Regions from separate parts of the Homo sapiens genome. Here regions 1, 2, 4, 5, 6 and 7 are each linked to region 3. Evidence: fine-mapped expression QTL. A gene starts in region 3. Each other region holds a variant in brackets. All regions are shown on one strand. Distances are from middle to middle.

The links. PIP is the estimated chance that this variant, and not a neighbour inherited with it, causes the effect.
Region 1: its variant is fine-mapped to the expression of PLA2G4C in whole blood (INTERVAL, PIP above 0.99).
Region 2: its variant is fine-mapped to the expression of PLA2G4C in whole blood (TOPMed, PIP above 0.99). The same link has a PIP of 0.9 or more in blood mononuclear cells.
Region 4: its variant is fine-mapped to the expression of PLA2G4C in whole blood (INTERVAL, PIP above 0.99).
Region 5: its variant is fine-mapped to the expression of PLA2G4C in whole blood (TOPMed, PIP above 0.99).
Region 6: its variant is fine-mapped to the expression of PLA2G4C in whole blood (TOPMed, PIP above 0.99).
Region 7: its variant is fine-mapped to the expression of PLA2G4C in cerebellum (GTEx, PIP above 0.99).

Annotation. Positions count from the first base shown.
Region 1 is chr19:48,184,922-48,189,477 of GRCh38, reverse strand. All of the region lies in intron 3 of ZSWIM9 (zinc finger SWIM-type containing 9), which reads right to left. Among named protein-coding and RNA genes, the nearest start is that of ZSWIM9, 17 kb to the right of the region's middle. RefSeq lists a silencer at 850-1,082 and an enhancer at 2,676-2,735. The variant A/TA (reference allele first, on the strand shown) is at 2,281.
Region 2 is chr19:48,138,523-48,143,078 of GRCh38, reverse strand. It overlaps LIG1 (DNA ligase 1), which reads left to right. Exons shown (of 28, transcript NM_000234.3): 12 at 2,936-3,108. Among named protein-coding and RNA genes, the nearest start is that of LIG1-AS1, 5.1 kb to the left of the region's middle. The variant T/C (reference allele first, on the strand shown) is at 2,062.
Region 3 is chr19:48,108,702-48,113,257 of GRCh38, reverse strand. PLA2G4C (phospholipase A2 group IVC) reads left to right here and starts at 2,441. Exons shown (of 17, transcript NM_003706.3): 1 at 2,441-2,771. RefSeq lists an enhancer at 2,466-2,625.
Region 4 is chr19:48,197,727-48,202,238 of GRCh38, reverse strand. No RefSeq gene overlaps it. Among named protein-coding and RNA genes, the nearest start is that of ZSWIM9, 29 kb to the right of the region's middle. The variant T/CTTTTTT (reference allele first, on the strand shown) is at 2,743.
Region 5 is chr19:48,203,587-48,208,063 of GRCh38, reverse strand. It overlaps LOC124904734 (a long non-coding RNA gene), which reads right to left and starts at 3,903. Exons shown (of 2, transcript XR_007067282.1): 1 at 3,842-3,903; 2 at 789-879. It also overlaps a transcript of CARD8 not described here. RefSeq lists an enhancer at 3,805-3,974. The variant T/C (reference allele first, on the strand shown) is at 1,647.
Region 6 is chr19:48,077,398-48,081,953 of GRCh38, reverse strand. It overlaps PLA2G4C (phospholipase A2 group IVC), which reads left to right. Exons shown (of 17, transcript NM_003706.3): 11 at 4,130-4,183. Among named protein-coding and RNA genes, the nearest start is that of PLA2G4C-AS1, 18 kb to the right of the region's middle. The variant T/C (reference allele first, on the strand shown) is at 2,295.
Region 7 is chr19:48,911,606-48,916,161 of GRCh38, reverse strand. NUCB1 (nucleobindin 1) reads right to left here. Exons shown (of 13, transcript NM_006184.6): 6 at 2,966-3,151; 7 at 2,598-2,688. All of the region lies in intron 1 of NUCB1-AS1 (NUCB1 antisense RNA 1), which reads left to right. Among named protein-coding and RNA genes, the nearest start is that of NUCB1-AS1, 5.0 kb to the left of the region's middle. The variant G/A (reference allele first, on the strand shown) is at 2,094.

The DNA.
Region 1 (4,556 bases), 76 kb before region 3:
TCCTGCCTCAGCCTCCCGAGTAGCTGGGACTACAGGTGCCTGCCACCATGCCTGGCTAATTTTTTGTATTTTTAGTAGTGACAGGGTTTCACCATGTGAGCCAGGATGGTCTTGATCTCCTGACCTTGTGATCTGCCCGCCTCGGCTTCCCAAAGTTCTCATTCTTTTTTAGTGCTGTGTAGTAATCCATGGATGGATATACCACAAGTTATGTAACCATTACCCGTTGGTGGAGTCTGGGTTGTTTCTAATCTGCTGCTTTCACAAACAACAATGATTAACCTTGTAAGTAAGTCCTTCCACAGCTGTGCAACTACATCTGCAGGATAAATCACCAGTAGTGGGATTGTGAGCCTAAGGGTGAGTGTTCTTGTCATTTTGATAGATATTGCTAAATTGCCCTCCACTGAGATCATACCAGCTTCCCATGGAGTATTCTTTTTTTTTGAGATGGAGTCTCGCTCTGTCACCCAGGCTGGAGTACAGTGGTGTGAGCTCAGCTCACTGCAAGCTCCGCCTTCCGGGTTCACGCCATTCTCCTGCCTCAGCCTCCCAAGTAGCTGGGACTACAGGCGCCTGCCACCACACCTGGCTAATTTTTTGTATTTTTAGTAGAGACGGGGTTTCACCATGTTAGCCAGGCTGGTCTCGATCTCCTGACCTCGTGATCCACCCGCCTCAGCCTCCCAAAGTGCTGGGCTTACAGGTGTGAGCCATCACGCCTGGCCCCATTGAGTATTCTTAAAAGGGATACACTTGCATCAATGCTCGCCATTCTCAGAAGGCAAAGCATACACGTAAGAGAACGCTGCAACGTTTCCGGGCAAGGTCTCTCTTTTCAGGGCTTGCTTGCTGGTTACCCTGGTGCCTGCCACAAGTGAGGGAATGGAGATGTGACTGGACCCCAAAGCCCATCATCATCAGGCAGGGCAGGTGATAAAAGGTGTTAAAGGTTGGGTGCGGTGGCTCACGCCTGTAATCCCAGCACTTTGGGAGGCCGAGGCAGGCAGATCACCAGGCCAGGAGATCGAGACCATTCTGGCCAACATGATGAAACCCCATCTCTACTAAAACACACACACACAAAATTAGCCAGGCCTGGTGGCGCACGCCTGTAGTCCCAGCTACTCAAGAGGCTGAGGCACAAGAATCACCTGAACCTGGGAGATGGAGGTCGTGCTGAGCCAAGATTGCGCCACTGCACTCCAGCCTGGGAGACAGAGCGAGACTCCATCTCAAAAAAAAAAAAAGGTATTAACACCTCCCTGGGTGAAGTCGCCCCCCAGTCTTGCCCTTAAATCATGCCTTGTGGCTTTGGGCGCATCCTTCTTGTCTGATCCCCTCCAAAGATCAAGAGAGCAACCCAACTCAGGAAGTGCAGGCACTTTTTACAAATAATCCTTCCTTTGGAAGACTGCTGGGAAGTGGAAAGACTGATTGTTGCTTGACCTAGGCTTGGGATGAAAATTTAAAGCTTGCTGTCTGTCTGTCTATCTATCTATCTATCTATCTATCTATCTATCTATCTATCTATCTATTTAAAGGGTCTCACTCTGTTGTCAAGGCTGGAGTACAGTGGTGTGATCATAGCTTACTGCAGCCTGAAGCTCCTGGGCTCAAGCAACCCTCGTGCCTCAGCCTCTTGAGTAGCTGGGACTACAGATGCATGCCACCATGCCTAATTTTTTTTTTTTTAATTTTTTGTAGAGACAGGTGCTCGTTATGTTGGCCAGGCTGGTCTTGAACTCCTGGGCTCAAGTGATCCTCTCGCTTCGGCCTCCCAAAGTGCTGAGATTACAGGTGTGAGCCATCGCACCTATTATATTATCAATATTACATGTTATGCGTTACATATTATAATATTAATATAATATATAATATTATATTATATAATATATAATATATATAATATTATATATAATATATATAATATAATATAATAATAATATAATATATAATATATATAATATAATATAATATATTATAATATAATATATAATATATATAATATATATAATTAATATATAATATATAATATATATAATATAATATAATATATAATTATAATATATAATTAATATAATATATTAATTATTACATTATACTGTTATATTACTACTGTATTATTAACATAATAATATAGAACTCTTTCATTAGATTTTATAAGTGAAAAAAAGGTGAAATTTCTGTGTAAAAGTGATGGATTGAACACCTCTCTAGTTTCACTCTCTCTTGAACCTCAATTACATCTTTTTTTTAAAATGGCTTTTTTTTTTTTTT[A/TA]AATCAGAGGCAATATGATAGGGACAGAACTTTGGAAACTGGAAAGCAGCTGGACATGCTAATCCCACCCCACCCCTAAAAACCCATGAATCCTAAGCCAGCAATTGAGGGATGCTGAGAACCGGTAGCAAAGTCCTCAAAAGGAGCTGGCAACACCAGGCCAGTTTTGCAGAAGGCAAAATAAAGACGAACTGAGGGCTGTTTCAGCAGCAGCTAGACCTCCAAATCTCGTTTCCCCTCTCCCCTTACTCTTCCCCCACCCCCAGTGACTGGGGGTTTATTCTGTAGACAGGGTGAAACAGAAAGGGGCCGCTGGCTTTGGGGACATCTGGCCCATCTGAAGATGAGGGAGGGGGATTCTGAACCCCAAGTGGGTACTGAGTGCGTCTTGCTGGCTGAATGCCTGACAGCTCCCTGCCTCTGCCCCTGCAGCTCCCAGAAGCTGGCAGCCTGGCCCTGGCAGCCTGGCCTTCACCCCCCGCCAGGAGGCCAGAGGAGTTTTCTCAGGGGGATTTGACCAGCCCCAGAGGAAGAACGAAAGATGGTGACATCTGGCACTCCCCAACGTATAAAGCAAGATGCAAAACAGCATGTACAGGCCGGGTGTGGTGGCCCCGACCTGTAATCCCAGCACTTCAGGAGGCCAAGGTGAGTGGATCACTTGAGGTCAGGAGTTTGAGACCAGCTTGGCCAACATGGTGAAACCTCGTCTCTACTAAAAATACAAAAATTAGCCAGGCATGGTGGTGCATGCCTATAGTCCCAGTTACTCAGGAGGCTGAGGCAGGAGAATCACTTGAGCCCAGGAGGTGGAGGTTATAGTGAGCCAACAGCGTGCCACTGCACTCCAGCCTGGGTGACAGGAGTGAAACCCTGTCTCAAAGAACAAACAAACAAACAAACAAAAACAGCGTGTACACTAGGCTGCCCTGCTTGCTGGGGGTGGGGGGTGGCGGGGCAGAAAGAGGAAATAAAGTTAAAAATTAAAGTTAAACATACAGACATGCAAATTGACCTGTATATGTGCAGAGCTGCGCTGTCCAATCCAGAAGCCACTAGCTACATTAGGTTGTTTACATTTCGATAAATTAAATGACAAATTCAGTTCCTCAGTCATACTGGCCTCATTAAGCATTCTGTAGCCATGTGTGGCCAGTGGCCTCTGGATTGGACAGTACAGATAAGAACCATTTTCTTTCTTTTTATTTTTTTAGACAAGAGTGTCACTCTGTTACCTAGGCCAGAGTACAGTGGCATAATCTCAGCTCACTGCAACCTCTGCCTCCTGGGTTCAAGCGATTCTTGTGCCTCAGCCTCCCGAGTAGCTGAGATTACAGGCACCTGCCACCATGCCTGGCTAATTTTGAATTTTTAGTAGAGATCAGGTTTTGCCATGTTGGCCATGCTGGTCTCGAACTCCTGCCATCAGGTGATCCATCTGCCTCAGAGTCCCAAAGTGCTGGGATTACAGGTGTGAGTAACCATGCCTAGCCTGGATAAGGAACATTTCTATCATTGTAGAAAGTTCCACCGGGCAGTGCTGGTCCATAGGATAGAAAGCGAGATATGATTTATAAGCTGCTAATAACTCTGCAGGGGAGGGGACCTGGGGGACAGGATGTGATAAGACTTTTCACCACATACCTTTTTTAGAACCATGTGAATGTATGACATATTCAAAAAGTAAATATTTAAATGTTGCTTCACTAATCTGTCTCTCCTGTCCTAGAACTTCTTCCTCCTTTCTTTCAAGAGCATTAAGGGGCTGGGCACGGTGGCTCATGCCTGTAATCCCAGCACTTTGGGAGGCCAAGGCGGGGGGATCACCTGAGGTCAGGAGTTCAAGACCAGCCTGACCAACATGGAGAAACCCCGTCTCTTCTAAAAACACAAAAATTAGCATGGTGGCGCATGCCTGTAATCCCAGCTACTCAGGAGGCTGAGGCAGGAGAATCGTTTGAACCCGGGAGGCGGAGGTTGCGGTGAGCCAAGATTCCGCCATTGCACTCCAGCCTGGGTGACAAGAGCGAAACTCCGTCTCAAAAAAAAAAAAAAAAAAAGTATGAAAGCAGGTCAAAACACAGACGCAGGAGCCAACCGTGGTTTAGCCGAGATTCCAAGACAGCCTTCAAAATGAAAAGACAACTCCCCTTCCAGGGAAGGCTCTGATCTATGAATGAGCTGTTCTGCACAGGGACAATCCTGCAGAGGGTGGGTTCAGGGAAGAACAGCTGAGGCTTATTTATGTCATGGTGGGTAGTGGAGGAGAGTTACTA
Region 2 (4,556 bases), 30 kb before region 3:
GGTCCTTCTCAGCAGCATGTTAGCATCGCTGGTCCCTGCCAGCCCCCTTCTCTGTCCCCATTTCCTCTTCTCTCCTTGTCCTCCTCACCCCCAGCACTCGCCCCTGTGTATTTAGTTTATATAAATATTATCATGGAGGCTGGGTGCAGTGGCTCATGCCTTAATTCCAGCACATCGGGAGGCCAAGGTGGGTGGATCACCTGAGGTCAGGAGTTCAAGACCAGCCTGGCCAACATGGTGAAACCCCATCTCTACTAAAAACACAAAATTAGCCCAGCATGGTGGCGGGTGCCTGTAATCCCGGCTACTCAGGAGGCTGAGGTACGAGAATCACTTGAACCCAGGAGGCAGAGATTGCAGTGAGCCGAGATCACGCTATTACACTCCAGCCTGGGTGACAGAGTGAGACTCTGTCTCAAAAACAAACAAACAAAATTATCATGGGTACGGCTCATTCTGCTTGCCTTCACTATCAAACCCGTTTCCACATGTGTCCATGTTGGTTGAGTGGTTCGAGCCTGTTGTGACTGCTCTGTAGTGTCCCTTCGTTCTCACATGGCACATGCCATTTCTCAGTTCCCCAACATGAGTGGAGCATTTCAGGCTGTTCCCAGCACTCTGTTTTTTTTTTTTTTTGAGATGGAGTCTTGCTCTGTTGCCCAGGCTGGAGTGCAGTGGCGCAATCTCGGCTCACTTGCAGCTCCGCCTCCCAGGTTCACACCATTCTCCTGCCTCAGCCTCCCGAGTAGCTGGGACTACAGGCACCTGCCACCATGCCCAACTAATTTTTTGTGTGTGTGTTTTTAGTAGAGATGGGGTTTCACTGTGTTAGCCAGGAAGATCTTGATCTCCTGACCTCGTGATCCGCCCACCTCCGCCTCCCAAAGTGCTGGGATTACAGGTGTGAGCCACCGCGCCCGGCCCTAATTTTGTATTTGTAATAGAGATGGGGTTTCACTATGTTGGCCAGGCTGGTCTTGAACTCCTGACCTCAAGTGATCGGCCCGCCTCGGCCTCCCAAAATGCTGGGATTACAGGCCTGAGCCACCACACCCGGCCCTCTTCTGTATTTTGTAAGGATGCTTTTTGGATTCAGAGCCTACCTTCATTCACTATGCTCTCATCTTAATCTACAGGTACATCCGCAAAGACCTTCTTTCCAAATGAGGTCATGTTGTGAGGCTCTGAGTGGACCTGAATTTTGGGGGGGCTGTTCCATCCACTGCACCATCCAATGGTGGCTTTTGCCTACAATGATTACTGAGGGATTTCCCTGATGTTGGTTTTTGTATTTCTTCTCTGCACCTTAAAAACCTCGGTAATGAGACTTCTGTAGGAAAAACCCAGCTTCTGTTTCTAATGAGGCCCCCTAAGTTTTTCAGTAACAAAGCCATTCTTTCCAGCTTTGAAGTTTTAGACAGAAACACGGTTTTCGTTTTAGAGGTGGTGCAGCTTGGTGGCTGGGAGCACAGTCCTCAGGCACACGGCCTTGGTGTACATCTCAGCTTCATACTTACTCGCTCTGTGACCTTGGGCAAGCCACGGACTCTTTCGGTGCCTCTGTTTCTTTATCCGTAAAATGGAAATAATAATGGTACCTACCTCAGAGGGGAGCTGTGAAGATTCTATGAGTTAAAAGGTGCAAAGGGCTGGCCGTGTTGGCTCACGCCTGTAATCCCAGCACTTTGGGAGGCCGAGGCGGGCGGATCATTTGAGGTCAGGAGTTCGAGACCAGCCTGACCAACACGTTGAAACCCCGTCTCTACTAAAAATTAAAAAAAATTAGCCGGGCATGGTGGTGCGCACCGGTAGTCCCGGCTACTCCGGAGGAGAATCACCTGAACCCACAAGGTGGAGGTTGCAGCGAGCCGAGATCGTGCCACTGCACTCTACCTTGGGCGATGGAGCGAGACTCCGTCTCAAAAAAAAGGTGCAAAGTGCTCAAAGCCAGCTCCTGAATTTAGAAAATGCTCCGTAGCATCAGCTGTCGTTTCTCTGGGCTGATCATCACCATCTTCATCATTGTTACCGTCACACCAAGTTACTCCCCCACTGTAACCG[T/C]CCGGTGGGTTCACCTTGCCCGCTGCCTAGACAGAGCCGATTTATCTAGACGGGGGAACTGCAGTGGAGAAAGAGTCATTCCCGCAGAGCTGGCTGTGCGGGAGACCGGAGTTTCATTTTTACTCAAATCAGTCTCCCTGAGCATGTGGGGAGCAGAGTTTTTAAAGATAATTTGGCGTGTAGGGGCTTGGTAAGTGGGGAGTGCTGATTGGTCAGGTTGAAGATGGACTCACAGGGGGTCGAAGGGAGGTTTTCTTGCTGTCTTCTGTTCCTGGGTGGGATGGCAGAACTTGTTGAGCCAGATTACAGTCTGGGTGGCGTCAGACTGAGTGCAGGGTCTGCAAACTATCTTAAGCACTCATCTTAGGTTTTACAGTAGTGATGTTATCCCCAGGAGCAATCGGGGAAGCCAGAGGCTGCGTGACCCCTAAACCTAAATTTCTAATCTTGTAGCTAATTTGTGAGTCTTGCGAAGGCAGGTCCTTAGGCAAAAAGGGGTCTTTTCCAGAAAGGGCTATTACCAATTTCGTTTCAGAGTCAAGCCACGAACCAAATTCCTTCCCAAAGTTAGTTCTGCCTATGCCCAGGACTGAACAAGGACAGCTTAAAGGTTAGAAGCAAGATGGAATCGGTTAGGTGTGATTTCTTTCCACTGTCATAATTTCCTCAGTTACGGTTTTGCAAAGGCGGTTTCACCTCCAGCAATCTGTGATTGTCCTCATGGCTCCAGGCCCCAGAGCCTGGGACTGTTCTGAGCCCTTTCCTCTTCTTTCTCCATTTCTTTCTAGTGTCCACCCCCTTAAACCCACCCCACCCCGACACCACACTTTGACCTTGAGGAACCACGTGTTCATACCCCCGTCCCCTCCTCCAGGCTCCGGATGGTGGAGACGCTGAGCAACTTGCTGCGCTCCGTGGTGGCCCTGTCGCCTCCAGACCTCCTCCCTGTCCTCTACCTCAGCCTCAACCACCTTGGGCCACCCCAGCAGGGCCTGGAGCTTGGCGTGGGTGATGGTGTCCTTCTCAAGGCAGTGGCCCAGGCCACAGGTAAGGGGGACTGTGGTTGGAGGGACCAGAAGGACAGGAGCTCAGCCAGAGAAAATGCAGAGGTCAGGTGGATCGGAGAGATGGTGGAGAGAGGCTGTGAAACAGGGTTGAGGAGAAGGCTGAGAGGGAGGAGAGCCTGATGGGGACAGATTTGCAGGGGTGTGGGAGAGAACACAGGGGCAGCAGTTCAGGTGAGGGAGGACCAGGCATGTGCTGGGACAGGGGGTGTGGGGTGCAGGGAAGGGGAGGGCTGGGGAAAGATGCTGGAGGCAGAGACAGCAGGATTTGGGGGCTGAGATGGAAGGTTGGGGCTTAGAGAGGTCTGAAAGGACTTTGACTGGAGGGATTGGAAGGAGTGGGAGGAAAGAACATGGTGTGTGGGGGGCCAGCAGCCTGAAGGGGCCCAGCCGCCAGTGCTGGGTGGAAAGGCTGGTGATGCGGATGGCCCGCCTGCCAAGGGCCTGGAGTGCTCGGTGCTTATCATGAGGACACTGGGGAGCCATGGAAGGATTGTGAGCAGGCAAGGGGCAGCATCCAGGGGGAAGAGGAGCTGGACCCCAGCTGTAGAGAAGAGAGAAGAGGGCAGGAGAGATCTGGCAGACAGTGGATGTCAGGGTGAGGAGGCAGGAGGAATGCCTCCAGGATCTCCCTGGGTGACTGGATGGATGACAAAGCCGTCGGCAGCTTGGGACCCTGGTGAGGGGCAGGCACCTGCAGGGGGCATTAATCACCCCAGCGTGGGGCAGGCATGAGCAACCTCTATCTGTGGGCCCCCAGGGCCATCCAGGAAGTTTGGAAACGGGTCTGAGGCTCACCAGGTCTGGCTCAGAGCCCAGGGTTCGGGCTGGTCAGTGTAGGAGGGATGACCACCCACTGGTGGGTTCTCATCCGCCTGGGGAGAGGATGTGCTGGGAGCACTGGAGCTGGCTTAGGGCCATGGGCACCAACATTTAGGGAAGGCAGGGGTTTCAGGCTTTCATGAGAGGACAGAGGGACTGAGAAAGGTTGACTTGGATCAGGAAAGAGTTACGGGCTTATGGGAGCCAGAGGAGATGAGACTCAAGATTTTCTCACTCATTCACTCAAGATGTGTTTCGGGAGCACTGACGTCATACCAGACCCAGCACACACGGGGTCGGTTAAGAATACTCTGAGCTGCAGGTAACAGAAAACCCAACTACATTGGCTTGGACAAAGAAGGATCTGTTTTTCTCACAAAAGAAGTTGCAGATGCTGGCTTTCCTGCCCAACAATCCATGGCAGCTGGGGCCTCTTCCACTGTCTCATGCCTCCACCCTTGATGGGTCGTGTTCACACTCACACTGCTCTCCGTGCCGCCTTGTGGCCCCCGTGGCTGTCCAAGTCCCGGGTTTGTTGTGAGTTGTTGGCCACTTTGGAGAATCCCGTCCCCTTTGATGTGTGATTCGATAACATCCCATTGGTGAGGC
Region 3 (4,556 bases):
TGTGGGCAGACCCAGGGGACATAAGCACAGGGGCTGCTGGGGACTTCTGGAGAAACATCTTTCCTGACCAAAAAGGACAGCCCTGGTTGTGGCAGCTCCTCCCCTCCTCCTGCCTTGACTAGAGATGATGGCTGGAGCCAAGTCACCACCTTGTAATGATGAGGAAAAAGAGTAACAAACTCTCCTGACGACCCTAAACCGGCGAACCTAGGGCAGCAGCTGCCTAACTGTGGGCTTTTGTTCATGGGAGTAGGGGAAGAATAAGCCCCAGGGCGATTATGCCACTCTAAAACATGGCTTTCAGCCGGGCACAGTGGCTCATGCCTGTCATCCCAGCACTTCGGGAGGCCGAGGCGGGCAGATCACCTGAGGTCGGGAGTTCAAGACCAGCCTGACCAACATGGAGAAACCCCGTCTCCACTAAAAATACAAAATTAGCCGGGCGTAGTGGCACATGCCTGTTACTCCCAGCTACTCAGGAGGTTGAGGCAGGAGAATCGCTTGAACCCGGGAGGAGGAGGTTGCAGTGAGCCGAGATCGAGCCATTGCACTCCAGCCTGGGCAACAAGAGCAAAACTCCGTCTCAAAAAAAAAAAAAAAAAAAAAAAAGACTTGTTTCTCATAGCTAAGAGTTCCTGATACAGCTCTGCCTTAAAGAACTGGCAAATTAGTGTGCATTTGTGTTTCAATTTCAAATAAAATGTTTAAGGCAAAAAAAAAAAGTAAATGTTGTATGTCAGGGGATCCCCACATTACTGGCTTTGTGTGGAGACCATGGTTCCTTTGGGCTTGGCTCTTCCTCCCTGCACCAGTGCAGGGCCCCAGGAACACATCTGCCACACACGGCCGCCATGTCCCTCTGCTGAAGCTAGTCAGGGTCATCCTCACTCCTCAGTGACCCTCATGATGGCTCCACCAGGTAGGTACTTTTATTCTCCCCATTTAACAGGTGAGGACACTGAGGGGCACAGGGATGTAAGTTACCTTCCCTAGGTCCACTATCTAGGAAGTGGTGGGCCAGGGTTTGGTCCATGCTGTCAGCTCCTTGACCCTGCATCTATAACTACTAACTATACTGTGGAGAGCCTCATGAGCTCCTGCGAGGTGTAGAACCTTATCCCGCAGGCGGGGCAGTGGCATGGTCAGGTCTAGGAGTGAAAAGATCCTGCGATGGTTGGAGTTGCGGGCACTGAAGAGGTGAGCCTGGCGTTAGGGGGAGCAGGGGAGACCATCTTCCCCCTGGTGAAATCCTGTTCTAAAATTGGTGATACTCCTGCCTTGGCCTCCCAAAGTGCTAGGATTATGGCCTCATATCTATTTTTAAAAAATAAGAATTCAAGCTGGGTGCGGTGGCTCGCAACTGTAATCCCAGCACTTTGGGAAGCCGAGGCAGGTGGATCACTTGAGTTCAGCAGTTCGAGCCAGCCTGGCCAACATGGTGAAACCCTGTCTCTACTAAAAATACAAAAATAATTAGCCGGGCGTGGTGGCAGATGCCTATGTTCCCAGCTACTCGGGAGGCTGAGGTAGGAGAATCGCTTGAACCCAGGAGACGGAGGTTGCAGTGAGCCGAGATTGCACCACTGCACACCAGCCTGGGCGACAAAGAGTAAGACTCCATCTCAAAAAAAAAAAAAAAAAATTCAAAACCCATCGAGTTGGGATGACGCTTAGTGCTGGGCTTCAGGAAGAGTAGGCAGGAGGGTAGTATGGGAGGTTTCTAGGAGCCACTCTTGGAAGCGGTGCTCCCCACAGATGCCCGATTGCACTGACTGGAACTCGGTCACATGACCACATAACTCGCTCACATGACCACACCTAGCTGCAAAGGTGCTGGGAAATGTGGTACCCTGTTGGGAGGCCACTTCTGGGCTTCAAACCTTCACTGTGAATGGAGCTCACAGGTTTTCTAAAAATGGACATTAAATGAACCAGAGTTGGCCCTAAGGATCTGGCTCACTGCAACCTCCACCTCCCAGGATGAAGCACCTGCCTCAGCCTCCCGAGTAGTAGCTGGGATTACAGGCACACGCCACCATACCGAGCTAATTTTTGTATTTTTAGTAGAGAAGGTGTTTCACCATGTTGGCCAGGCTGGTCTCGAACTCCTGACTTCACATGATCCGCCTGCCTCAGCCTCCCAAAGTGCTAGGATTACAGGCGTAAGCCACCACGCCTGGCCTCAATATTTCTTTTTCTGGGTATTTGAGTATGATATTATATATGATGGTTATTAGACAGCCAGATGCATAGGAGGATTAGCTAATCTGTTTTGAGGAATACTTATCTCCAATATAGTTATATAACGACAACATTCTTTTTTTGAATACTGGTCTCGGGTGCCTAATGACAGAAGGGTGACATCACTAAGGAAGCCTGGAAAGTCCCAGCCCTCCACGTGATCCCACGGATGAAAATAGCTCCGGGTGAGCTCTGGAACAGCTGAAAAAGCTGGAGCAACCAAGCAGGGCCTACAAGCCGAGGAGGGCTGTTTAAAGGCGCAGGGGCCATTTTACCTCCAGGTTGGCCCTGCTCAGGACCAGGAGGAAACACCTCCAGCCCGCGACCTCCTCCCACAGGGGGAAAAGGAAAGCAGGAGGACCACAGAAGCTTTGGCACCGAGGATCCCCGCAGTCTTCACCCGCGGAGATTCCGGCTGAAGGAGCTGTCCAGCGACTACACCGCTAAGCGCAGGGAGCCCAAGCCTCCGCACCGGATTCCGGAGCACAAGCTCCACCGCGCATGCGCACACGCCCCAGACCCAGGCTCAGGCAAGCCGTGGGGGCAGGGAGGGCTGTTTCATCCCGCTGGGGCGGCCATAACCAAGTACCAGGGATTGGGTGCAATTAAATAACAGGATTTCTTTTTCTTTTTTATTTTATTTTATTTTATTTATTTATTTATTTTTTTTTGAGACAGCATCTCGCTCTGTCGCCTAGGCTGGAGTGCAGTGACGCGATCTCGGCTCACGGCAAGCTCCGCCTCCGGGGTTCAAGCGATTCTCCTGCCTCAACCTCCCGAGTAGCTGGGATTACAGGCGCACACCACCACACCCGGCTAATTTTTGTATTTTTAGTAGAGATGGGGTTTCACCATGTTGGCCAGGCTGGTCTCAAACTCCTGAACTCGTGATCCACCCCACTCGGCCTTCCAAAGTGCTGGGATTACAGGCGTGAGCCACCGCGCCCGGCTAGGAATTTATTTTCTAACACTTCTGGAAGCTAGAAGTCCAAGATCAAGGTGTTGGCAGGGTTGGTTTCTCCTGAAGCCTCTTGCAGAGGCCCTAATCTCTCCTTATAAAACCAATCAGGCTGGGCGCGGTGGCTCACGCCTGTAATCCCAGCCCTTTGGGAAGACGAGGCGGGCGGATCCTGAGGTCAGGAGATCGAGATCATCCTGGCTAACACAGTGAAACCCCGTCTCAACTAAAAATACAAAAAATTAGCTGGGCGTGGTGGCGGGCGCCTGTAGTCCCAGCTACTCCGGAGGCTGAGGCAGGAGAATGGCGTGAGCCCGGAAGGCGGAGCTTGCAGTGAGCCGAGACTGCGCCACTGCACTCCAGCCTAGGGCACAAAGCGAGACTCCATCTCAAAAAAAAATAAAATAAAATAAACCAATCAAACCAAATTCCAGGCCACCCTCAGGACCCCACTTTAACTTAGTCACCCCTTTAAGAGCCTATGTCTGGCCGAGTGCGATGACTCATGCCTATAATCCCAGCGTTTTGGGAAGCCAAGGTGGAAAGCTCTCTTGAGCCTAGGAGTTCAAGACCAGCCTGGGTGACATAACAAGACCTGATCTCTACAAAACATAAAAAATTTAGCTGGAGATGGTAGCATGTACCTGCACTTCCAGCTACTCGGGAGGCTGAGGTGAGAGGCTCGCTTGAGCCCAGGAGGCTGAGGCTGCAGTGAGCCACGATCACACCACTGCACTCCAGCCTGGGTGACAAAGCAAGACCCTGTCTCAAAAAGCAAACAACGAAAAAGAATCCTATGTCCAAATACAGTCACATTCTGAGGTTCTGGGGGTTACAAGTCCAACATATGAATTTGGAGGTGGTGGGGGGAAGCTGATTAATTTCATAAGGGGGGTCTTGAAACTGCCTTCGCAGAAATGTAAGTAATGAGAGAAAGCTAACATGACTGACCATCTTGTTTCTAACCTCACAGGCTAGATTTTTTTTTCTTATTCTAGTGCAGAGGCCAAAATTACCATGAGAGGAATTTAATTCATAGTTAAACTTTGAGACAAAGAAAACTGACCCCCAGTCCTTGTTGAGAGATTGAAGCCACATTCATTTACTTTTTATTTATTTATTTAGTTTTGAGACAGAGTTTCACTCTTGTTGCCCAGACTGGAGTGCAATGGCATGATCTCTGCTCACTGGCACCTCCACCTCCTGAGTTCAAGTGATTCTCCTCCCTCAGCCTCCTGAGTAGCTGGGATTACAGGCGCCCGCCATCATGCCCAGGTGACTTTTGTACTTTTAGTAGAGATAAGGTTTCACCATGTTGGCCAGGCTGGTCTCCAACTCCTGACCTCAAGTGATCCTC
Region 4 (4,512 bases), 89 kb before region 3:
GTCACAGTAAAGCTTCTGGGGTAGGGGAGGTGGTTATTCTAATGTACATCCAATCAAGCCACTCTCTGTTTAAAACCTTTTGAAGGCTTCCCATACCTCCCAGGATAAAGACTCACCTCATCTTCTATCTTTAAGGGCTTGCGGATTTCACTGTCCAAATCTCTCCCTCTTTCACACTCTGACCCATCTACACTGGCCCATCTTCTCTTTACCTTATGGGCTGAGCTCTTTTCCACCCCAGGGTTCTGTGTGTTATTTGGTGAATCAATTAATGAATTAATTCAGCTTCCCGTCACTAACCAGATAGCCCACATCTAAGAATCTAATGATAAAACAGGCAAGTGGAGAAGTTTTGGATTTGGTTTGCGCTCAATAGCTGTTGTTTGCCTTCCCAGGATCCCTCCTGCCTCCTTTCCTTTCTCTCTTTCTTTTTTTTTTTTTATTTTTTATTTTAAGAGATGGGCATCTCCGGGCGCAGTGGCTCACGCCTGTAATCCCAGCACTTTGGGAGGCCGAGGTGGGCGAATCATGAGGTCAGGAGATCGAGACCATCCTGGCTAACACGGTGAAACCCCGTCTCTACTAAAAAATAGAAAAAATTAGCCGGGTGTGGTGCCGGCCACCTGTAGTCCCAGCTACTCGGGAGGCTGAGGCAGGAGAATGGCGTGAACCCGGGAGGCAGAGCTTGCAGAGAGCCGAGATCGTGCTGCTGCATTCCAGCCTGGGCGACAGAGCGAGACTCCATCTCAAAAAAAAAAAAGAGATGGGCATCACGGGTGTGACTAGCTGGGGCCAGTATCATGGGAGGTAAAGGCATTTATCAAGACAGTCGTAGGGAAAGAAAGGCAGATTTATTAGACAGATAGTACATTGCAAGAAAGCAATGGGCAGCACAGCAGACGAAGAGCTGTCTGCAAAGGCAGGGGCTGCAGGGAAGTTTCATAGGGTTGTACTGGAGGGGTCTACGTGCTGAACGAGTTACCCTAGTCCTCCCGGCCAAGGCATTTTTTGAGACAGAGTCTCACTCTGTCACCCAGGCTGGAGTGCAGTGGAACAATCATGGCTCACTGCAGCTTCGACCTCCCAGGCTCAGGAGATCCTCCCACCTTAGCCTCTTGAGTAGCTGAGATCACAGACGTGCACCATCATACCAGGCTAATTTTGTTTCTATTTTTGTAGAAACGGGGTCTTCCTATGTTGCCCAGGTTCGTCTTGAACTCCTGGGCTCAAGCGGTCCTCCCACTTTGGCCCCCCAAAGTGCTGGGATTTCAGACATGAGCCACCAAGCCCTGCCAAGGCCTTTTTAGTTCACCCAAAAGCCAGATGACTCCCGATATGTGGGCAAGCCCAACGAAGATCAGCTACTTTATCAAGATTAGCTGCTTTCATTTTTTTTAAATAAGCCTATTTCCGATAATTGTAGGTTTATGATCAGTTGCTTTGCTTTTCAAAGTATAACATGCATACTAGGATCTTGTTAGAATGAGATTCTGATTCTGTAGTTTTGGAATGGGTTTGAGAATCTGCATTTCTTTCTTTTTTCTTTCTTTCTTTTTCTTGAGATGGAGTTTTACTTTGTCGCACAGGCTGGAGTGCAGTGGAGCGATCTCGGCTCACTGCAACCTCCGCCTCCTGGGTTCAAGAGATTCTCCTGCCTCAGCCTCCCGAGTAGCTGGGACTACAGGTGCGCCACCACGCCCAGCTAATTTTTGTATTTTTAGTAGAGGCAGGGTTTCACCATGTTGGCCAGCATGGTCTCGATCTCCTGACCTCAGGTGATCCGCCCACCTCAGCCTCCCAAAGTGCTGGGATTACAGGTGTGAGCCACCGTGCCCAGCCGAGAATCTGCATTTCTAACAAGCTCCTAGGGAATGTTCATGACACTGTTGCATGCACCACACTGAAAAGCAAGGGTCTAGCCAACCCCTCAGGTGACCCAAGACTCATAAGCAATACGTGTTCATTTTTATTATTGTTTTAACTTTTAAAGTCAGGGGTACATGTGCAGGTTTGTTGTATAGGTAAACTTTTATCATGGGGGTTTGTTGTACAGATTATTTTGTCACCCAGGTATTAAGCCTAGTACCCATTAGTTATTTTTCCCGATCCTCTCCCTCCTCCCATCCTCCACCCCCTAGTAGGTCTCCATGTGTGTTGCCCCTCTCTCTGTGTCATTTCTTCTCATCATTTAGCTCCCACTTATAAGTGAGAGCATGCAGTATTTGGTTTTCTGTTCCTGTGTTAGTTCATTAAGGATAATGACCTCCAGCTCCATCCATGTCCCTGCAAAGAACATGATCTAGTTGTTTAATGGCTCTATAGTATTCCATGGTGTATATGTACCATATTTTCTTTATCTAGCTTATGATTATTGATGGGCATTTAGGTTGATTCCAAATACATGTTTATTGTTATATACTTAGGAAGTTTTATAGTTGTTAACACAGCATTTATGTAGCCATGGATAACTGATAACCTCCATAAATCCAACCTGCTGCTTCCTTGAGACTTAATATACGAATGCTGATAGAATGGTATTTTTGGATCAAGATAGGAGGGTGTGATATGGGAACTTCTAGTCCCCCCCTTTCTCAGGAGAGAGCTGTCTTTTGAAGAAATCCATCGCACGAAAAGCAGGCGAGAGAGGGGAAACCTGACATTGTTTGAGCCCCTGCAGTCAGCTGCCATCAAAGCCTTTGACTTCGCATGACTTGAACCACTGAATCATTTTTTTTCTTTTTT[T/CTTTTTT]TTTTTTTTGACAGAGTCTCGCTCTGTCACCCAGGCTGGAGTGCAGTGGCACGATCTTGGCTCACTGCAACCTGCGCCTCTTGGGTTCAAGCAATTCTCATGCTTCAGCCTCCCAAGTAGCTGGGACTACAGGCACCCGCCACCACATCTGGCTAATTTTTGTATTTTTAGTAGAGACAGGATTTTGCCTTGCTGGCCAGGCTGGTCTTGAACTCCTGGCCTTAAGTGATCCACCTACCTCAGCCTCCCAAAGTGCTGGAATTACAGGTGTGAGCCACCACACCCGGCCTGAATTGTCTTTTATCTCAAGTTCCTTCATTGCTACTCAAAGTGTGCTCCACAACCCAGCACAGCCACATCATCGGAGAGCTTGCTAGAATGTTGGGCCCTATCTTAGACCTACTGAGTCAGACTCTGTATTTTAAGAAGGTGCCCACGTGACTCACGTCCACGCTAAAGTTTGAAAAATGCTGAGCTACTTCAACCTGGACTTTGTCACCTATAATAGAATTAAATCCCCTTCATCAGTTGCGACAACAGAAACCCCAACTCAAACTTCCCTAAATCATTAGGGTATCTTTGATTGGCCAGGTGCAATGGCCCACATCTGTAATTCTAGCACTTTGGGAGGCTGAAGCAGGGGCATCGCTTGAGGCCAGGAGTTTGAGAACAGCCCAAGTAACGTAGCAAGAGACCTCATCTTTACAAAAAGTTAAAAAAAAGAAAAGAAAAGAAAAGAAAAAGAAATTAGCTAGGTGGTAGCACGAGCCTATAGTCCTAGCTACTCAGGAGGCTGAGCTGGAGGATCCCTTGGGCCCAAGAGCTGGAAGGCTGCAGTGAGCTATGTTTGCACCACTGCACTCCAGCCTGGGCCAGAGCGAGACACTGTCTCTAACAAAAAAGGATATATTTTACTTAAGAAGCCCCATGGTAGAGCAGACTCGAGAGACTCAACTGAGCCAAGCAAAGATCCAGATTTTCTTCATCTCAGCTCTGTCATCCTCAGTGTGGACTTCATTATCACACCATACCAAGGTAATCATCAGCAGGTCTAGGCCTGATCATGTCTCTAGGCCTTCTTAGGAGTGATAGAATCTTTATTAGAAGCCTCCTAGGCCGGGCGCAGTGGCTTACGCTTGTGATCCCAGCACTTTAGGAGGCTGAGGCGAGCAGGTCACCTGAGGTCAGGAGTTTGAGACCAGCCTGGCCAACATGGTGAAACCCCGTCTCTACTAAAAATACAAAAATTTGCCAGGTGTGATGGCGCACACCTGTAATCCCAGCTACTCAGGTGACTGAGGTATGAAAATCACTTGAACCTGGGAGGTGGAGGTTGCAGTGAGCCGGGAACGTGCCATTGCATTCCAGCCTGGGTAACAGAGCAAGACTCAAAAAAAAAAAAAAAAAAGCTTCCTAGTTCTGAGCACAGTGGCTCACACCTGTAATCCCAGCACTTTGGGAGGCTGTGGCAGGAGGATTGCTTAAGCCGAGGAGTCCAAGACCAGCCTGAGTAACATAGCAAGACCCTGTTTCTACAAAAATATAAAAATAAAAAAGCCTCCCACCTCAACCTGAGCAGACTCGTTGACCAGGACTGGGTCACAGGCCCATTCTGTGGCCAGGACATTTGGCATGAGTCAGTCATTTGAAGGTAGAATCGACTCATGTCAAGAAGTTGCCACTGGGACGCACTGGTCCAGATGATGGAGGAGGAAGCTTGAGTTGCTATGGAGATGAATTCATTGTGGCTCCTCTATCCATCTGGCCCCA
Region 5 (4,477 bases), 95 kb before region 3:
ATTTGAGGATGCTAAATTAAAAATAGAAGGCCGGATGCAGTGGCTCACGCCTGTAATCCCAACACTTTGGGAGGCCGAGGTGGGTGAATCAGATGAGGCCAGGAGCTCGAGACCAGCCTGGCCAACATGGTGAAACCCCGTCTCTACTAAAATTACAAAAATTAGCCGGGCATGGTGGTGCATGTCTGTAATCCCAGCTGCTCGGGAGGCTAAGGCATGAGAATCACTTGAGCCTGGGAGGCAGGGGTTGCAGTGAGCCAAGATCACACCACTGCACTCCAGCCTGGCTGACAGAGTCTCATTCTGTCTCAAAAAAAAAAAAAAAAAAACAGAAAAACAACAATAAAAAAGAAGAAGTTCATTAGAATGAAGCTACTAAGAAGAAGATGTAAATATCAGGTGATATTTATAATACATAAAAATGATTCAACATGAGTAAACAAACAGAAAACTCCTTGTGAAAAATGGGCAAACGTTATGAGTAAAATGTTACAGTTTGTAAATCGCAATGGACAATGAACAAAAGTAGAATTTCATACGTCTAGTTATCAGAAACCTCATTAAAAGCCATAAAAATACTACATTTTATATTCATCAAACTTCCATTTATTAAGAAGTCAGTAATGCCTACTACTGGTGAGTATATGGAGCACAAATGTAAGTTCTGCTGTTGGTTAGGTAATGCTTGATTTTGGAAATTAATCTGAAGTTACACAGTGAAGTTAAAGGTATGTATACTACCTTATCCTGCTCAGGTTGCCATAACAAAATACCATGGACTCAGTGGCTTAAAGAGTAAAATTTTATTTCTTACAGTTCTCAGGCTGGGAAGTCCTAGATAAATATTTGGCCAATTCAGCATGGTTTTTTTTTTCTTTTCTTTTCTTTTTTTTTTTTTGAGACAGAGTCTCTCTGTCGCCCAGGTTGGAGTGCAGTGGCGTGATCTCGGCCCACTGCAACCTCCGCCTCCCGGGTTCAAGTGATTCTCCTGCCTCAGCCTCCTGAGTAGCTGGGATTACAGGTGCCCACCACCACGCCCAGCTAATTTTTGTATTTTTAGTAGAACAGAGAGGAGAAGGTTAGGGGTGAGTCAGAGGAAGTACGAGAGCAATCGCTAAGAGATAAGGTCGAACTTTAGGAGCCAGGAAAGCCTCCACACTTGTCACCCCACACATCAGGGCTGTCCAACAGAACTTTCTGCAGTGATGGTGTTACCCTATGGAAGGTCCTGACTGTGAGTTGTTAGGGTTCTTGGTGTGTGGAACAAAGAATTGAACAAAATGCACAAACAAAGCAACAAAAGAGCGGAGTAACGAAAGCACAGATTTATGGAAGTGAAAGTACACTCCAGAGTCGGAGTGGGCTTGAGCAAGTAGCTCAAGAGCCCCTGACTGCAGTGCTCTTTAGAGTTTTCATTAAGCTAAAAGAATTTGGTAACACCCCTAGGTGCCCTTTAGAGGCCTCCAGTTGGTTACACCCTATGAAGGATTGGCCCGTGACCAATCAAGAGGCTGAAGTGGAGACTTCTGTCTTGTTATCACAGGAGTGAGGATGTGGCCTGGATGCTGCCCAATCTTGCCTAGAACTGGCTGCACCTGCTTGTGCCTTAACCCTTGGTTACCCTAAATCCCTGTTATCCAGACTCA[T/C]TGGGACTGCTCTAGATCTTCACTATCCAATACGGTAGGCGCTTCCTGAAATGTGCTGAGTTTTATTTCATTATAATTAATGTAATGCACCCACATGTGGCTAGCTGCTACTGTTCTATTGAAATGCAACTATACAACTTCCCATAATGTTTCAAAACACCAAACTCTTCTGTAACTCCCCCAGTCTCCCAAAACATCTTATAAAAATCCTAGAACAACTGGCTGGGGGCGATGGCTCACGGCTGTAATCCCAGCACTCTGGGAGGCTGAGGCGGGTGGATCACTTGAGGTTAGGAGTTCGAGACCAGCCTGGCCAACGTGGTGAAACCTCGTCTCTACTGAAAATACAAAAATTAGCCAGGCATGGTGGCGCACACCCGTAATCCCAGCTACTTGGGAGGCTGAGGCAGGAGAATTGCTTGAACTCAGAAGGTGGAGGTTGCAGTGAGCCAAAATTGCACCACTGCACTCCAGCCTGGGTGACAGAGTGAGACTCTGTCTCAAAAAATAAAAATAAAAATCCTATAACAACTGCACAATGCTCAAACGGCCCAATTCCCTACCTTTCCTTTTATACCTTACTACTACTCTCTTGTTGCTCCCATCATGCCTCACTCCCTACTCACATTTCCCAGACGGAGGTTACATGTGATATGGCAGCTGAGAGCCCAGACTCTGGGGCCCGATTGTGTGGGTCCAAATTCTGGTTCTAACACCTCTGGCCAAGTTATTTAACCTCTCTGTGGTGCAGTTTCCTCATCTGTAAAATGGGGGTGTGACAGTAACGCTACCTCATAGGAATGTTGGGATGCCTCAACAGCACTCATGTAAAGCAGAGATGGGTACAAGTAGCTTTATTATATATTATCTGTTTAACAATTGTATATGGGCCAGGCGCAGTGGCTCACGCCTATAATCCCAGCACTTTGGGAGACTGAGGTGGGTGAATCTCTTGAGGTCAGGAGTTCAAGACCAGCCTGGCCAACATGGTGAAACCCCTTCTCTACTAAAATTACAAAAATTAGCCGGGCGTGGTGGTGCGCACCTGTAATCCCAGCTACTCGGGAGGCTGAGGCAGGAGAATCGCTTGAACCCGGGAAGCAGAGGTTGAAATGAGCAGAGATCATGCCACTGCACTCCAGCCTGGGCGACAGCGTAAGACTCCATCTCAAAAACAAGCAAACAATTGTATATGGCCGAAACTTTCCATAATAAAACGTTTTTAAAAATAAGAGTACTTAGCATAGTCTCTGGCACACAGTCAGTGCTGATCTTGGCGTTAGCTTCAACACTCCGACTTTTCCTGACTATCCCCAGCTCCTCCTACAACCCAATTACTCTATAATACCTGTTTCCCCTATAATAACCCACTCTTCACAAACACTTAAATTAACCATAATGAGAGCTGCCAAATAAAATACAGGATGCCCAGCTAAATTTGAATTTCAGATAAACAACAGAGAGTAACTACAATATTATGCATTTTCCGAAATTAGAATTTAACTGGCCATTGCTTTCCCCCTAAATCTGGTAACTCTATCACTAAATGCCTTTGCATACTGAGGAATCCTCAGTGCTTCCTAGAGGCTGCTACTGAGTTGGCCTTCTATAAATAACAACAGAATTAACTTATATAATACCTCAATTCCCTTATAAAACTTCCAGCTTCTCTTTACAGCGCCAGTTCTTCCCAATCGCCTCCCAGTCCCTCCCATAGAGGACAACAGTCCCCTTTTCTTATACCTCCCCTTCTCCATGAAACCCCAATTCCGTCTATAGTCACATCTGTCCTGTTTACCAGTACTGTCAACTGTGCCTGGCTTCCAGCAGGAGCTCTATAATAACTGCAGAATGGCAAAAGAGCTTAATACCCCAATTTTCCCTACTGCTTTGGGAGGCTGAGGCGGGCGGATCCTACTGCGTTTCCACTTCCCCTTGAGCATCCCAAGTATCTAGTAACTTGTCGATTTCAATGATCTCCCCAAATCTCCTTATTACATAGGAATTCACCAAAACACTCCCTGTCCTTGAAAACATCCCATTTCCCCTAATATCACCCCAACTCCCCTTACTGCAGACTGATTCCTCCGGCACACCCTCCATCCCTCCAGTTCCCAGGCTGTTAGTCTAATTTCTCCCGCGAGGTCTCTAATCCCCGTCTCCTTCCACTCCAGGGTTACTGTGGCAACGCCAACCTTTGAATCCCCCTCCTGCGCGCTGAGCGGCTCGTAACCATGGAGACCGAAGCAGGTTTCCCGCGTCCGCCTCCTCACCCAGAGACTGCAGCCCCGGCGCCCAGACCCTTTGGACAAGGAGATCCAAGCGGGCCCCACAATGCTCAGCGGGTAAAGAGCTCCTCCCCACTCCTCTCCCGCCAGCAGACGAAGGAAACACCCCGCAGCCTGCACATGCTCAGATGGAGCTCTGGGCCCGCGGGTTCTACTGCGCAGGCCCTCACACTCAGCAAAGGGACTTGGACGCGAAAGCGCTGGTGGCGCTCAGCCGGCTGGGAGTTGTAGCTTTCTGGCTGCTACAGCAGGAGATACAGGTGGCCAATGGGTGAGCTGGCTGGAGGTAGGAACAAGGTTAAGGAAGCTGGGATCTTCGTGCAGACTGGATCGTCACTATAGCAACAATGAAACATCGGGAAGGGCTAGTTCTGCTAGGCAGTCTGCCATTTTCATTCTTTCATCTTTTTTTTTAACTCAAAGCTTACTTTGCAACAGGCACTGTTCTAGGCACTGGGGATACAATGGAAAACAAAATAGAGCTTCTATTTTGGCGGGAGATCGACTTAATAACTGTGAACACGTGTCACTGGAAAAAGCAGT
Region 6 (4,556 bases), 31 kb after region 3:
ACGTACCACCATGCCCGGCTAATTTTTATATTTTTAGTAGAGATGAGGTTTTGCCATGTTGGTCAGGCTGGTCTCGAACTTCTGAGCTCAAGCAATCTGCCCGCCTCAGCCTCCCAAAGTGCTGGGATTACAGGCATGAGCCACCACACCTGGCCCCAATGTGTAGTGTTTTTTTGTTTTTGTTCTTGTTTTTTGAGACGGAATTTCACTCTTGTTGCCCAGGCTGGAGTGCAATGGAGCGATCTCTGCTCACCGCAACCTCCACCTCCTGGGTTCAAGCCATTCTCCTGCCTCAACCTCCCGAGTAGCTGGGATTACAGGCATGCACCACCATGCCTGGCTAATTTTGTATTTTTTTAGTACAGACAGGGTTTCTCCATGTTGCTCAGACTGGTCTCGAACTCCTGACCTCAGGTGATCCACCTGCCTCGGCCTCCCAAAGTGCCGGGATTACAGGCATGACCCACCACTCCTGGCCCCAATGTGTAGTTTTTTATCCCCACCTCCCTACCCTCCTCTTTCTGAATCTCTGAAGTCCGTTATGCCACTCTGTATGCCTTTGCGTACCCATAGCTTAGCTCCCACTTATAAGTGAGAACATATGGTTTTTGGTTTTACATTCCTGAGTTACTTTACTTAGAATGATGGCCTCCATCCAAGTTTCTGCAAAAGACATTATTTTATTCTTTTTTATGGCTGAGTCATATTCCATGGTGTTTATATACCACATATTCTGTATCCACTCATTTGTCAATGGGCACTTAGGTGGGTTCATATCTTTTTTTTTTTTTGAGACAGTCTCACTCTGTCACCCAAGCTGGAGTGCAGTGGCGCGATCTCGGCTCACCGCAAGCTCCGCCTCCCAGGTTCACGCCATTCTCCTGGCCCAGCCTCCTGAGTAGCTGGGACTACAGGCACCCACCACTGCGCCCAGCTAATTTTTTTTTTTTTTTTTTTTTTGTATTTTTAGTAGAGACCGGTGTTAGCCAGGATAGTCTCGATCTCCTGACCTCATGATCCACCCGCCTCAGCCTCCCAAAGTGCTGGGATTACAGGCATGAGCCACCATGCTCGGCTGGTTCCATATCTTTCAATTGTGAATTGTGCTGCTATAAACATACATGTGCATGTGTCTTTTTTTTTTTTTTTTGAGGCAGAGTCTCGCTCTGTTGCCCAGGCTGGAATGCAGTGGTGCAATCTCACTGCAACCTCCAACTCGTGGGTTCAAGTGATTCTCCTGCCTCAGCCTCCCAAGTAGCTGGGACTACAGATGTGCACCACCGCATCCAGCTAATTTTTGTATTTTTAGTAGAGATGGGGTTTCACCATGTTGGCCAGGCTGGTCTTGAACGCCTGACCTCGAGTGATCTCCCCTCCTCAGCCTCCCAAAGTGTTGGGATTACAGGCGTGAGCCACTGCACCCAGCCCACAAGTGTCTTTTTCATATAATGGCTGCCTTTCCTTTGGGTAGATACCCAGTAGTGGGATTGCTGGATCGAACGGTAGATCTACTTTTAGTTCTCTGAGGACTCTCCATACTGTTTTCCATAGAGGTTGTACTAATTTACATTCCCACCAGCAGTGTGTGAGTGTTCCATTTGCACCGCATCCACACCAACGTCTATGGTTTTTTTTGAATTTTTATCAATGGCCATTCTTGTGGGAGTAAGATGGTATCTCATTGTGGCTTTCATTTGCGTTTCTTTAATGATTAGTGATGCTGACCATTTTTTTCATATGTTTCTTGGCCACTGGAATATCTTCTTTTGAGAAATGTCTATTCATATCATTGGGATGCTTTTCGGTGGGATTATTCGTTTTCTTGCTGATTTCTTTGAGTTCCTTATAGGTTCTGTATAATCGTCTTTTGTGGATGCCTAGTTTGCAAATATTTGCTCGCATTCAGTGGGTTGTGTGTTTACTCTGATAATTACTTCCTTTGCTGTACAGAAGCTTTTTAATTTACTCAGGTCCCATATATTTGTTTATTTTTGAGACGGAGTCTCACTCCATCACCCAGGCTTCAGTGCAGCAGCACGATCTCGGCTCACTGCAATCTCCGCCTCCCAGACTCAAGCAATTCTCCTGCCTCAGCCTCCTGAGTAGCTGGGATTACAGGCATCCAACACCATACCTGGCCAATTTTTGTATTTTTAATAGAGATGGGGTTTCGTCATGTTGGTCTGGAACTCCTGACCTGAAGATCCGCCCAGCTGGGCCTCCCAGAGTGCCAGGATTACAGGCGTGAGCCATCGTTCCCATATATCCATATGTTTATTTTTGTTTTTGTTGCA[T/C]TTGCTTTTGGGCTCTTGGTCATGAACTCGTTGCCTAAGCCAACATCTAGAAGAGTTTTTTTGATGTTATCTTCTAGAATTTTTATGGTTTCTGGTCTTATATTTAAGTCTTTGATGCAAATTCACATTGAATTTGTGAGTTGATTTTTGTATAAGGTGAGAAATAAGGATCGAGTTTCATTCTCCTACATGTGGCTTGCCAGTTATCCCAGCACCATTTGTTGAATAAGGTGTCCTTTCCCCCACTTTATGTTTTTGTTTGCTTTGTCGAAGATCACTTGGCTATAAGTATTTGGCTTTATTTCTGGGCTCTCTATTCTGTTCCATTGTTCTACATGCCTAATTTTATACCAGTACCGTGCTGTTTTGGTAACTATAGGCTTGTAGTATAATTTGATTGGGTAATGTGATGCCTCCAGATTTGTTCTTTTTGCTTAGTCTTTGCTTTGGCTATGAGGGCTCTTTTTTGGTTCATATGGATTTTGGGATTGTGGCTGGGCATGGTAGCTCACGTCTGTAATCCCAGCACTTTGGGAGGCCAAGGCGGGTGGATCACCTGAGGTCAGGAGTTTGAGACCAGCCTGGCCAACATGGCGAAACCCCATCTCTACTACAAATACAAAAATTAGCCAGGCATGGTGCATGCGCCTGTAATCCCAGCTACTTGGGAGGCTGAGACAGGAGAATCGCTTGAACTTGGGAAGCAGAGGTTGCAGTGAGCCAAAATTGGCCATTGCACTCCAGCCTGGGCAACAGAGCGAGACTAAGTCTCAAAAAAAAAAAAAAAAGGATTTTAGGATTTTTTGTTCTGTGAAAAATGATAGTATTTTGATGGGAATTACACTGGACTTGTAGATTGCTTTTGGCAGTATGGTCATTTTCACAATATTGATTCTACCCATCCATGAGCATGGGATGTGTTTCCATTTGTTTGTGTCATCTATGATTTCTTTCAGCAGTGTTTTGTAGTTTTCCTTGTAGCAGTCTTTCACCTCCTTGGTTAGGTATATTCCTGAGTATTTTATTTTATTTTTTTGCAGCTGTTGTAAAAGGGGTTGAGTTCTTGATTTGAATCTCAGCTTGGTCATTGTTGGTGTATAGCAGTGCTACTGTTTGTGTACATTGATTTTGTATCCTGAAACTCTACTGAATTCATTCATCAGACCTAGGAGCTTTTTGGATGAGTCTTTAGGGTTTTCTAGGTGTACAATCATATCATCAGTGAACACTAACAGTTTGACTTCCTCTTTACTGGTTTGGATACCCTTCATTTCTTTCTCTTGTCTGATGGCTGTGGCTAGGACTTCCAGTACTATGTTGAATACAAGTGATAAGAGTGGGCATTCTTGTCTTATTGCAGTTCTCAGGGGGAATGCTTTAAACTTTTCCCTGTTCAGTGTAATGTTGGCTGTGGGTTTGTCATAGATGGCTTTTATTACATTGAAGTATGTCTCTTGTATACCGATTTTGTTGAGGGCTTTAATCATAAAGGGATGTGGGATTTTGTGAAATGCTTCTGCATCTCCTATGATTTTTGTTTTTAATTCTGTTTCTGTGATATATCACATTTGTTGACTTGCATATGTTAAGCCATCCCTGCATTCCTAGTATGAAACCCACTTGATCACATCATGGCAAATTTCAAGCTACCAACATGAGGTCAGCGAGCACAGAGTTGGAAGACGGGTACAAAATTAGCTCTCCAGAACCCGTATCAACAGACTCCAACCCATGGCTGCCATTTCTATTAAAGAGACGTCGCTGCAGGTAATCTGTATTTTCTATAACTAGTGACTTTACAGTTAAACATTCCCCCTGCCTCTGCTCTTTTGCAGCCCGATTACTGAGGCTGCAAGAAAGTTCACAAGGGGAACATCCTCCCCCAGAAGGTAAGCATCCTACTTTGCCATGAATCCCTAATGATAGTGTGGACTGCACACTGGCTTGAAGCCAGCCATTGTCCTAAAAACTTTACGTGTCTGATTCATGTGGTGCTCCTTTGGGAATGGAGAGGAGCATGGACTCTCCCAGGTGCCTGAGGCCACGCAGCCAGGAGGGGCAGGATCGGAGTTCAAACTGACACTCTGTGAAAAATGATAGTATTTTGATAGGAATTACACTGGACTTGTAGATTGCTTTTGGCAGTATGGTCATTTTCACAATATTGATTCTACCCATCCATGAGCATGGGATGTGTTTCCATTTGTTTGTGTCATCTATGATTTCTTTCAGCAGTGTTTTGTAGTTTTCCTTGTAGCAGTC
Region 7 (4,556 bases), 800 kb before region 3:
AAAAGATTCTACTTGCATGAAGTACCTAAAATAGTCAAAATCATAGAGACAGAAAATAGAATGGTGGTTGCTAGAGAGCAGGGGAAAGAAGGGGAGGGCGAGTGGTTTAATGGATACGGTTTCGGTTGTGCGAGATGAAGAGCTCTCAGAATTGGTTGCATGACAGTGTAAATATACTTAATACTATTGAACTGTACAATTAAACATCTTTAAAGCTGGGCGCAGTGGCACACACCTGCAGTCTCAGCTACTCAGGTGACTGAGGCAGGAGGATTGTTTGAGGCCTGGAGTTTGACTCCAGCCTGGGCAACATAGCAAGATCCTGTCTCAAAAAAAAAACAAAACAAAACACGGGGGGTGGTGCCCGGTGGGATGGCTCATGCTTGTAACCCCAGCACTTCGGGAGGCCAAGATAGGTGGATCGCTTGAGCAAAGGAGTTTGAGACCAGCCTGGGCAACATGGTAAAACCTTGCCTTTACTAAAAATTAAAAAAATTAGCCAGGCATAGTGGTACGTGCCTGTGGTCCCAGATACTTGGGAGGCTGAGGGGGAGGATCACTTGAACCTGGGTGGTCAAGGCTGCGAGGTAGTACACGTCACTACCTGAGACCCCATTACAGAATCTTCTAATTCTTTTTTACTTTCTATTGCTTTTTGAGACAGAGTCTCACTCTGTTGCCCAGGCTGGAGTGCAGTGGTGTGATCTCAGCTCATTGCAACCCCCGCCTTCCGCCTCCCGGGTTCAAGCGATTCTCCTACCTCAGCCTCCTGAGTAGCTGGGACTATAGGTGAGCACTACCATGCCTGGCTAATTTTTGTTTTGTTTTTTAATTTTTGTATTTTTAGTAGAGACTGGGTTTTGCCATGTTGGCCAGGCTGGTCTCCAACTCCTGGCCTCAAGGGACCCACCCGCCTAGGCCTCCCAAAGTGTTGGGATTACAGGCGTGAGCCACCACACCCGGCCTAGAACCTTCGTTGATTCTGAGATGCACTTTTGTGTTCTTCTATTTTATCACCCCTGAAATAGGGATGTATCTTTATTTATTTAACTTTTAATTTTTATTTTTTTCTTTGTTTTTTTGAGATGGAGTGTTGCTCTGTCACCCAGGCTGCAGTGCAATGGCACGATCTTGGCTCACTGCAAACTCTGCCTCCCGGGTTCAAGTGATTCTCCCACCTCAGCCTCCTGAGTAGCTGGGATTACAGGCACTCACGATCATGCCCAGCTAATTTTGGTATTTTTGTGGAGATGGGGTTTCACCATGTTGGCCAGGCTGGTCTTGAACTCCTGACCTCAGGTGATCCTCCCACCTCAACCTCCCAAAATGCTGGGATTATAGGCGTGAGCCACCACGCCTGGTCTATTTTTTTTTTTTAAATAGAGACAGGGTCTCACTTTGTTGTCCAGGCTGGTCTTAAATTCCTGGGCTCAAGCCATCTTCCACCTTGGCCTACCAAAGTGCTGGGATTACAGACATGAGCCACTACACCCAGCCCAGGACGCATCTTGTTTTCAATGGTACGTTAATTTAATTGGCAGCTTACGTAAAATGCTAGCACCTCTCATACTGTACAGTCTCGTGGAGTTACTAAAGTATGGTATGATCTGTGTGCCTGATCACTGGCTCTGAGGGGGAGGTACTTTGTTTTGTTTACAGTTGTATCCACGGGGTCTTGACAAAGCTTGGTCCTTAGAGGGAACTTAGGAAAGGTTTGCTGAATGAATGAGTCAGGCCTTGCTAAGCTTATCTGACCGGCTACAGATTCTGGGACAGGGTGCTTGGCATACCTGAGGGGGCTTGGCAACCCCAGGCCACATTTCCAGACAGGAAGAGACAGACTGAGGGGAGTGTGCCTTTGATCCACCATAGAGAAAGGGCTTTCGAGGCCGGGCGCAGTGACTCACGCCTGTAATCCTAGCACTTTGGGATGCTGAGGGGGCAGATCACACGAGGTTGGGAGTTCGAGACCAGCCTGGCCAACATGGTGAAACCCCATCTCTACTAAAAATACAAAAGTTAGCCGGGCATGGTGGTGCATGCCTGTAATCCCAGCTACTCGGGAGGCTGAGGCAGGAGAATCACTTGAACCC[G/A]GGAGGCGGAGGGCAGGGGGTTGCAGTGAGCCGAGGTCATGCCACTGCACTCCAGCCTGGGCAACAGAGCAAGACTCCATCTCAAAAAAAAAAAAAAAAAGGAAAAAGAAAAAGAGAAAGGGTTTTCCAGGCTTCTGGAGGCCTGGTTCTTAGGGAACAACCCACTCCTAGCGACAGGGTTCCCAGAGTGGACCAGGGCTTCTCCTGGGCTGCTGTGGGCAGAGGGCCCAGGCCTAGCCAAGCCTGGTTTGCTTACAGAGGACACCAGCTGTCCTTAGAACCCCGAGGTCTGGTGTTTGCTAGAAAAGAGGCCCAACCCTTCCATGCAGATCCTAGCCTTGTAGTCGGGAGAGGCAGGGCTGTCTGGTCAACCAGGGGACATAGGCTTGGCTCTTGGGCCTGACTAAGCCCTCCTGGGACAGACACACCCCTCTTAGCATTCAGGTCCTAGAAGGGTCAGAATCTAGGGTTCATCCTGGCTCTGGAACTCCCTCCCCACCTTACCATGCAGTATGAAGAAGGTCTTGGGGTTAAACCTGTTGGGGTCCAGTCCATCCAGCTCCTCCCACACCTCCTTCAACTGGGCTTGGCTGCCCTGTGGAGGGGAGAGCCAGGAGCTCATGAGCAAGAAGTCTGGATGCCATGGGATAAAACCAAATATCCCTTTACCCTCATCCAACAAACATCATCTCCCTCAAGCAAGAAAACTAAGAAAACTACAACTCCCAGCAGACCCTGGGGCAGCCAGGTACAGTAACAGGGAGTTTTTTTGCCTCAAGGGCCCCTGGGAATTGTAGTTCTTTAACTGCTTTCTTGTCTTGCGTTTGAACTGGATGTGGTAGGGAGTGGATGGGCACAAATGGGGTCCTCACAGGCACGTTGACTTTAGGGTGCTCGCGGTGCCGGCGCTGTTGCTCTTCCAGCTTCCTCTCCGCCTCCTTTCTCTGCTCCTCTCCCAGTGACTCCAGATAACGCCGTCTCTCGTGTTCCTTAAGCATCTCGTAGCGCTTGAACTCTTCATGATGGGCTGCGTCGTACTGGGCAAGGTCCCGGGTGGCCTGGGGAAAGGCACAGGGTCATTCCCCTCTGCCCCCTCTGCCCAGCCCCCAATTCCAGCCTGTAAATGGCAGGCCCTTGGCCCTGAACCTGGCTGAGGGCAGCCCCAGCCTCTACCTGTCTTTCTTACGTCTCGTGTCCTAATGTCCCTTTTTTTTTTTTTTTTTTTGAGAGGGAGTCTTGCTCTGTTGCCCAGGCTGGAGTGCGGTGGCACAATCTCTGCTCACTGCCTCACTTCAACCTCTGTCTTCCGGGTTCAAGTGATTCTCCTGCCTCGGCCTTTCGAGTAGCTGGGATTATAGGCATGTGTCACCAGGCCCAGCTGATTTTTGTATTTTTAGTAGAAACGAGGTTTCACCATGTTGGCCAGGCTGGTCTCAAACTCCTGACCTCAGGTGATCCGCCCACGTCAGCCTCCCAAAGTGCTGGGATTATAGGCGTGAGCCATCGCGCACAGCCTGATGTCGCCCTTTTTGGTTTCCATGACTGCTCCTGCCCCATAACACACTTTCTTCTCTTTATTCAAAACAGATTGGGACGGTTATACAATAGCAACTTCAACCCACCTCTTTCAAGTCCTCCACAATCTCCAGATCTTGGAGGAATAAGTAAATAGGAACAACATATGTGGTGAACTTAGTATTTATGTATTTCAGGTACAGCTAGGTGGCCAAGAACATAAGGTCAGACTAGGAGAGGTGGGTCACGCCTGGAATCCTAGCACTTTGGGAGGCTAGGGTGGGAGGATCACTCGAGCCCGGGAGTTCAAGACTAACTCACATAACACAGCGAGACCTTGTGTCTACTAAAAATTTTTAAAATTAGCCTGGTGCGGTGGCTTGCACCTCTGGTCCCAGCTACTCAGGAGGGTCAGGTGGGAGGATTGCTTGAGCCCAGGAGGTTGAGGCTGCAGTGAGCTGTGATCATGCCACTGCACTCCAGCCTGGGCATCAGAGCAAGACGCTGTCTCAGGTAAAAAAAAAAAAAAAAAAAGTAAAAATAAACCAAAAAAAGAACAAGAGGTTTCTAACTATTTTGCCCAGCGTTCAAATCTAGGCTTTGCTTTGTGACCAAATCTCATAAGCTCTGTGACACTGGGCAAGTTACTCAGCCTCTTTGTGCCTCAGTTTCCACCTCTGTAAAATGGAGTTAACAATACCAGGTTGAACAGTATACTCCCCCCACACTCCCAAATTCATGTCCACCTGGAATCTCAGAATGTGATCTTATTTGGAAATAGAGTGTTTGCAGATGTAATTAGTTAAGATGATGGCCTGCTAGATTACGGTGGGTATCACTATAAGAAGAGCTGGGTGCGGTGGCTGACACTTGTAATCCCAGCACTTTGGGAGGCTGAGGCGGGTGGATCACCTGAGGTCAGGAGTTCGAGACCAGCCTGGCCAACAT